Homo sapiens: one gene and its partner. The main gene of each other region encodes a partner of the protein of the gene in region 2 in a complex. Each region holds a gene or a part of one and is shown on either strand. Other genes may lie near its edges. The genes, in order: CALM2 and ATP2B4.

Region 1 (3,820 bases), on a different chromosome or scaffold from region 2:
CTAATAAAAGTGTCTAATGAAAACAAAGGAATAGTTTGCAAAGCATTTCAACACTACAATAAAAAAAAAAAACAACTCCGGCAAGGGGGGAAAAAAAAGTTTCCCCAACATTGACATTAACCAGCCATCTCAATGTACAAGGATAAATCAAAAGTATTAATGTTCTATGGCATGGCATAAAGAGAACATGACATCAGGTTTTATGTAATAATTTTGCATACTTCCATAGCAAACTAAAAGGGACAAGATTTAAGCGGCTTCATTTCAACAGCTGTCACTGTTTTTTAAGAGAAAAATCCACATTGCTACAGTGACATTTATAGAATAGAATGCCAACTTCTTAAATTTTTTCACTTGAGAAATGGTTATTCCCTGACTGATTATATATGCAATTCTTAGGTTAAAATGTTAGCTAATTTTAACTAGGGTAAATTCAATTGTTCCTTTTTTGATTCTCCATTTCAAGTTGCCTTAGTTACTTCTTGGCCTCCTTTTCTAGCGTGTTAGCTAGCCCAGAATTCCTGTTTTATACTAAGGTAGTCTTCAGAAAACAAAACAAAGACCACCACTACACCACAAGGCTCCAAAGTATATCCACGCAGACTAAAATACATGTCTTTAACTACAATTAGCCCTGCACATCTTCCATCGGCAAGTTTACAATCCCACTTGCCAAAGCAGGTTGAATTACTGTATTATATTATACCCATATGTTAGTATCCATGACATATACCAAAGTCAATTATTTCATACAAGTCTCTTATTCTGACGTTGGCTATTCAATTTATAATAAGAATCTAATGGGTACAATCTAGCTGAGTATTTCTCACCTGCAATCTGCTCTTCAGTCAGTTGGTCAGCCTACAAAGAGATCAAAGAGGAAGGTTAGTGACTTGAGAGTATGTAGATTAGCAGTTACAGAAACAAGTTTAAAACCTTTCAAGGGTTACCATGTACTGTTTCATTTAGTTCCAGCAACAAACACATCTGGATAGAAAATGCACACATCTAGTTTCTCTTATCTTCAAAGCTAAGCTGTCTTAACTCCAAGTTTAAGATATACAAATACTTCAGAATATTTTTGAAAATATACTTTAGAATCCAATAGAAACATTGCTTCCTTTTTCAACGTTAGAATAGCTAAACTTAAGCTCACTTCTATTCCAGATATAAATCACCAGAAATTCCCACTGAATCAAAATGCTTCAGGCTCACAAAATGAAAATTACTCCCACAAATGGTTAAACACATTGTTTTGAAATTAAAGTGATTAAAAAAAAAAAAAGGCACAAACTTTTATTCCTTCTCACCCAGCAGGCAAAATGCAAAGAATCCAGAGCTCTGAACTACAGTACTATAATATTTACCAAATGTTTGAAAGTTCAGCCATCCATTTTCTCTTGGTTTTTAAAATCCCAAAGTAAGCCCAAGGCTTGTGATGTTTTTTTAATAGCACTTGGTTTTCTTCAGAAAATATTTTCTGCCATTTGCTAAAACCCATTATAAATTTTATCCTTATTCAATCTTAATAATAACCTTACAGTGGTATTATCCCCTATCTTACAGATAAGGAATGAGGCTAGGGTTAAGTGGGATTGGGGCACAGAAAATTAGTAGAACAAAGATAAAGCACTAAGGTGTCAGACATACCCAGTAACTTTTAGCTTTTAATTCAGAGCACCGTAATATATAAAGATGATTGCAAAATATCCAGACTCCTTGTTGTATTCTTTGAACATGCACTTTCTTTCACTGCTTATTAGTATATACATCCATGAAGCAACTGCTTATGGGGTATTGAGAAGCACAGACAAGAAATAGCCTCCTATCTAAAATCCCTACCAACATGGGAGTCAAGTATACAATGATTAATCCATTCATTTATTTATAGGTAAAAGAAAAATAAACATTGCCTGGCTTCATTCTTTTTAAATGAACACACCCCTGGAAAAAGTAACACCTTAATGTGGAACACATTTTCTCTAGGGCACATGAGAAAATTCAAGAAGGAATCCAGAAAGCAGTTTATTTTCCCTGCTCAACAATTTTTGTTTGACCATGATGTAAATCAAATTCATTAAAAAAAAAAAAAAAAAAAAAAGCTGGTAACGTAAAATTGAAGAGCCAATAATTAAGTTCAAATACAGAGTTTGTAAAATAAAAAATGTATCCACTTTTATCCCTAAAGTCCAAATCCTCCGCCAACAAATATTTGGTGTGAAGTCAGTCACAGATTGTTTACCCAAGGAATAAGGTTTAAAATCCAGTAAATCTGAGTTATTTACTTTGTATTAATAGAAGCTACATTACTTCAGTTTATTGCATTTTGCAGGACTTCCACCATTTCTGAAAGGAAGGGCAACCTGGCATGCGTGGCGTGGGGGGAAAGCATCAAGTTCTGAGTCACAGGCCAGTATCCCAGCCCTGCCATTTAATAGCTGTGTGACCTTGGACGTGGTACTCCTCCTCTCAGTCAACTTCATTTGTAGCACAAGAATAACAATACTTACCTTGCAGGGTTGTTGTGCAAAGTGAGATGCTATGTACAAAGCTAACCTAAAGAGTTAAATGATAACCATTATTTCATATAAATTAACAAAGAACCTACAATGTTAAATATCAACCTGACTAGCTCAATTTCCACACCGAATGTAGACATGCATGGCATTTATTAAGCCCTTTATGGTAAGCTTACTCTATTCAATGTTAACTTTGTTTAAGCTGAGAAAATTTATGCAAACTAAATCCACAAGGTGCAACCCAGCGACAGATGCAGCGGACATCACTTTAAGGCTAAAAAAAAGTTGAGCTAAATGTGTGGCAGACACTGCAGCCTGTGTGAAAGTTGAAGGATCCCGTACTCTGTACAGGAAGGGAGACAGGTTCGTTCTCTCTACATGGGTTGGGGGGGGGGGGGGGGTGGGAAATGGGACTTTGGGAAGGCTACTATATATGAAACATGAGAAGCCTTAGGAAGAAACGAGGATGTTAGCAATTTAGGAACCACTGTCCAATTTTGCTTGGAAAGTCAAAATTTAGGGACCTCATACCATCTTGTCTAACTCCCTACCTCCAAGCAAATGCAATCTTGGAAGAGATCACAAAAATGAGCTTCAAGGAATGAATTAAGCACCCAAGAGACCAAATTACTCACATAACCTGAAAGCTCTCAATTTTGCTTGGAAGGTTGAGAAGCTTTTTGTATTACTTATCCAGAGTTCAGGTTTTAGAATAAACTTTTACCAGCAATATCCAGATTAAAGCCTACTATAAATCAAGAAGACTTCCTAGCACTAACTTTCCCAACTGCTACAAAGGCGAATAAATTTGGTTCTTCCTTGTTTCCAGGGAGTGCCATTTTCTTAGAAGAACCAGAAGAATTATACTTTTGGGAAAACTCAAGCTCATTAACATGTATGTTTATCTCAGTAAAGTGAAGAAGAATTCACTAGAGAGATGACTTGTTCTTACTCCCTTATTTCTGTAGCTATTGACATAATTCTTCCCACTGCTCTTGCCACTCCAGAGAAAGTTCCTAGGCATTAGTATACTCTCAGGTTCCTCCCTAGACCTCCTGTACTAGAATGTTCATTTTGGAGAACCATAGGTGATCTGTCAACACTAAGGAGCACGACCCCGTATTACATTAGTGACCTGAAGTGAATACATTATGTACCTATCAAACATTTCCTACATGCCATTCAAAAGTATGCATGAATACTGTTGGAGTTTATCTAGTGAAAGGTGGTGTTCTTATCTGAATAAATGTGTGAGCCCATAGGCTTGAAATGGAACGCAAACTGCTATCCTTCATCCATTC
Region 2 (3,820 bases):
TGTTCTACTCCCAAACATCAATGGTGGCAGTTCAAAGCCATATGCTTTTTGGCCTCTTTTCCCCTGGTCATCCTGGGCAGAAGGATGGGACTTGGCTGCAAATTGTTACATTGTGCTAGACTCTATCTGTGATAAAAGAGTTTGGTTTGGGCATTGAGAGTTTTACTCCTTTGTCTTCTATAGAAGAGGAGGGTCTTGAATCAGGAATGTCTGTATGTCCAAACTTGGTTTCATGTAACAGTGCAGTTGATGAAGGCCCAGAGATATCCCCTGCTTCAATCAAGGTTACACAGCAGACAAGAGTCCAGATTACCAGTTTTCTGACTCCCAGTCCCGTGCTCTTCTGGCAAGCCTGGCAGCCCACTAGAACAAACTCCTCCCTGTCTGCCCCCTTCCAACTTCCTGGCTCCCGCTCTTTCAGGCTCCCTCACCAACACAGAAGGGGAATTGACTAAAGGATTAATAGCCGTCACCTACATGAGCCTACGTAAAAAGAGCCCTGAGTCATGTAGGGCCTAGCCCCAGGGTTTCCAGGAGAAGAGAGGGAGAAAAAGAGAGAGAGAAGCCATCCTGGAAACTCAATCTCTCTCCAGAGCGACGATCAGGATGGGGAGGCGGGGGTGGGTAGCACAATGATTTGGGTCAATGACAGGACAGCCAGGTGTGCTGCCCTTGCCAAGGGAGTGCCTAGAAGGCCTTGCTTAGCTCAGGCATGAAGGCTCCAGGCAGGCACTGCTTGCTGGTTTCTTTCAGAATCACCTAATTAGAGAATTCTAAGGGACACTAAAGGTTTGGTCAGCAACAATCTCTGGGCTGTTTGGTGAATTTCTTCTCTTACAGCCTGGGACCTGTCTCCTCAAAAGTTAGGTGGGTGACTCTGGAAGCCCTCAGTCCCCAGGTTCCCTCAGCTGGCCCCATGGCATGGTGGGAGAATGCCTGTCATCCTACCTCCCTTTGTGGCCCACTCATCAGGGCCCAGGTGCTCCTGTCTGGACAGGAGAGGCTGTGGGTGGGGAGCAGTGAGGGTGGGAAGGTAGGCTTCCTAAAGGACCTTACTTTCTTAGAAGATCCCTCTGTGTGCTCCATGGGGACTCTCAGCACCCAAGAGCTTAGAAAAGACACTCCTATTGGTCAGGAGTTTTGCAGATAAAGTGAGAAGAAACCAGGAATCTAGGAGTGCCTCTGGCATGGACTTCTCTCTCTGGCTAAGTATTTGGAAAAATTTCAAACCTGAAAGGTTGAAAAAAATAGCACAATAAACAACTGCAGACCCTTTACTTAGTTTCACCTTTTTTTTTTGAGACAGGGTCTCACTCTGTCAACAGGCTGGAGTATAGTTTCATGATCACGGCTCACTGCAGCCTCAAGTTATCCTCCTGCCTCAGCCTGCTGAGTAGCTAGGACTACAGACAGGTGCACAGCCTCCATGCCCAGCTAATTTTTTATTTTGTAGAGGTGGAGTCTTCCTATGTCATCCATCTCTACAAAAAAACAAAACAACAATAACAACAAAAAAATTAGCCAGCCATGGTGGCATGCACCTGCTCCAGTTACTTGGGAGGCTGAGGTCGGAGGATTGCTTGAACCTGGGAGTTTGAGGCTGCAGTGAGCTATGACTGCACCACTGCACCCCAGTCTGGGTGACAGAACAAGGCCCTGTTTCAAAAATAAATGGGGGCTGAGTGTGATAGCTCAAACCTGCAATCCCAGCACTTTGGGAGGCTGAGGAGGGTGGATCACCTGAGGTTGGGAGTTTGAGACCAGCCTGACCAACATGGAGAAACCTCGTCTCTACTAAAAATACAAAATTAGCCGGGTGTAGTGGTACATGCCTGTAATCCCAGCTACTCAGGAGGCTGAGGCAGGAGAATCGTTTGAAATCAGGAGGCGGAGGTTGCGGTGAGCTGAGTTTGCAGCATTGCACTCCAGCCTGGGCAACAAGAGCAAAACTCCATCTCAAAAAATAATAAATAAATAAATAAATGGGGCCGGGTGCGGTGGTTCATGCCTGTAATCCCCGCACTTTGGGAAGCTGAAGCAGGTGGATTGCTTGAGCCCAGGATTTCGAGCCCAATCTGGACAACACGGTGAAACCCCGTCTCTACAAAAAATATGAAAATTAGCCAGGCATGATAGCATGCGCCTGTAGTCCTAGGTACTTGGGAGGCTGAGGTGGGAGGATAGCTTGAGCCCAGGAGATCAAGGCTGCTGTGAGTTGTGATTGTGCCACTGCACTCCAGCTGGATGATAAAGCAAGACCCGGTCTCAAAAACAAACAAACAAACAAAGAGATGCATTTCTGTTGCTTAAGCCACCCAGTCTATGATGTTGTTTTAGCAGCCCAAACTAAGATATGCTAAGACCAATCTTTCACCCAGTGGTTTTAGTATCCATTAAACGCTAGACTAAATCAGCTATTATAGTAGAGGCTGCAAACTGGTCAATTTAAAGTTCCAGTCTGGCACTGTGTCTCACCCATTATCCTGGTGCTTTGGGAGGCTGAGGCAAGAGGATCGCTTGAGCCTAGGAGTTCAAGGCTATGGGCCACTGCACTCCAACATGGCTGACAGAGTGAGACCCTATCTCTAAAAATAGGTAGGTAAATAAAGATAATGTTGGCTAAAAGATGCAAAGTTTCAGTAGACAGAAGGAATGTTTCTGAGATTTACTGCACTACATGGTGACTATAGTTAATGTAATGCATGTTTCAGAATTGCTAAGAGAGATTTTAAATGTTTACACTACAAAAACAACGATAAATGTGTGAGGTGATGGATATGTTGATAGTTTGACTTAATCGTTCCGTAATGTATGCATATATCAAAACATCACATTACACCCCATACATATATGAAACTAGTATTTTTCTATTAAAATTAAATTTAAAAAAATTTTTTTTGAGACGGAGTTTCACTCTTCTTGCCCAGGCTGGAGTGCAATAGTGTGATCTTGGCTCACTGCAACCTCCGCCTCCCAGGTTCAAGCGATTCTCCTGCCTCAGCCTCCCGAGTAGCTGGGATTATAGGCATGCACTACCACGCCCGGCTAATTTTGTATTTTTAGTAGAGACGGGGTTTCTCCATATTGGTCAGGCTAGTCTAAAACTCCCGACCTCAGGTGATCTACCCACCTCAGCCTCACATAAAATTAAATTTAAAGAAAAATCTTGTCATTACTACTAGATTTTATTAGTTGGCATTTACTTTATTTATTTATTTATTTATTTATTTATTTATCTGATATGGAGTCTCGCTCTGTCTCCCACTGGAAGTGCAGTGGCACAATCTTGGCTTACTGCAACCTCTGCCTCCTGAGTTCAATCGATTTCCGGCTAATTTTTATATTTTTAGTAGAGACAGGGTTTCACCATGTTGGCCAGGCTGGTCTCAAACTCCTGACCTCAAGTAATCCACCTGCCTGGGCTTCCCAAAGTGCTGGGATTACAGGTATGAGCCACTGCGCCCAACTGGCATTTACTTTTTAATTTTTTGAGACTGAGTCTTGCTTTATCACCCATTCTAGAGTGCAGTGTCATGATCAGAGCTCATGGGAGCCTCAAACGCCTGGGCTCCAGCGATCCTCCTGCCCTGGCCTCCCAGTGTGGTAGGATTACAGAGTGAGGCCTTGTGTCTGGCCTCGTTGGCATTTCTGTTCAGAGTTTTCCCTCCCTGCTCCTCCCTGTCCATGTCAACTGTCAAAATAGACTCAAGGAATTTTTAATATTCAATGTGTTACAATCTATTACCATTATCCTTTGGAATGCTTAATGTGTTTCACCTCTGGTTGGCGGGAGACCCTTTAAGCCAGCTCCTGTGACAAC

The links.
Region 1: the proteins of ATP2B4 (region 2) and CALM2 are in contact, whole or in part, in an NMR structure (PDB 2KNE), measured with the Homo sapiens proteins. Residues at the interface, in NP_001675.3 of Homo sapiens: Leu1086, Gly1089, Gln1090, Leu1092, Trp1093, Phe1094, Gly1096, Leu1097, Gln1101, Ile1104, Lys1105, Lys1108, Ala1109, Phe1110, His1111; in NP_001734.1 of Homo sapiens: Leu33, Leu40, Met52, Ile53, Val56, Ile64, Met72, Lys76, Met77, Lys78, Thr80, Glu84, Glu85, Leu113, Glu115, Met125, Glu128, Ala129, Phe142, Met145, Met146, Ala148.

Annotation. Positions count from the first base shown.
Region 1 is NC_000002.12:47,169,904-47,173,723, forward strand, and holds part of CALM2 (calmodulin-2), read right to left. Parts: exon of another isoform or gene 2,557-3,820; coding exon of another isoform or gene 2,511-2,556; exon of another isoform or gene 862-2,510; coding exon 831-861; intron 1-830. UniProt on the Homo sapiens protein: Calmodulin acts as part of a calcium signal transduction pathway by mediating the control of a large number of enzymes, ion channels, aquaporins and other proteins through calcium-binding. Calcium-binding is required for the activation of calmodulin.
Region 2 is NC_000001.11:203,633,130-203,636,949, reverse strand, and holds part of ATP2B4 (plasma membrane calcium-transporting ATPase 4), read right to left. Parts: intron 1-3,820. UniProt on the Homo sapiens protein: Calcium/calmodulin-regulated and magnesium-dependent enzyme that catalyzes the hydrolysis of ATP coupled with the transport of calcium out of the cell. By regulating sperm cell calcium homeostasis, may play a role in sperm motility.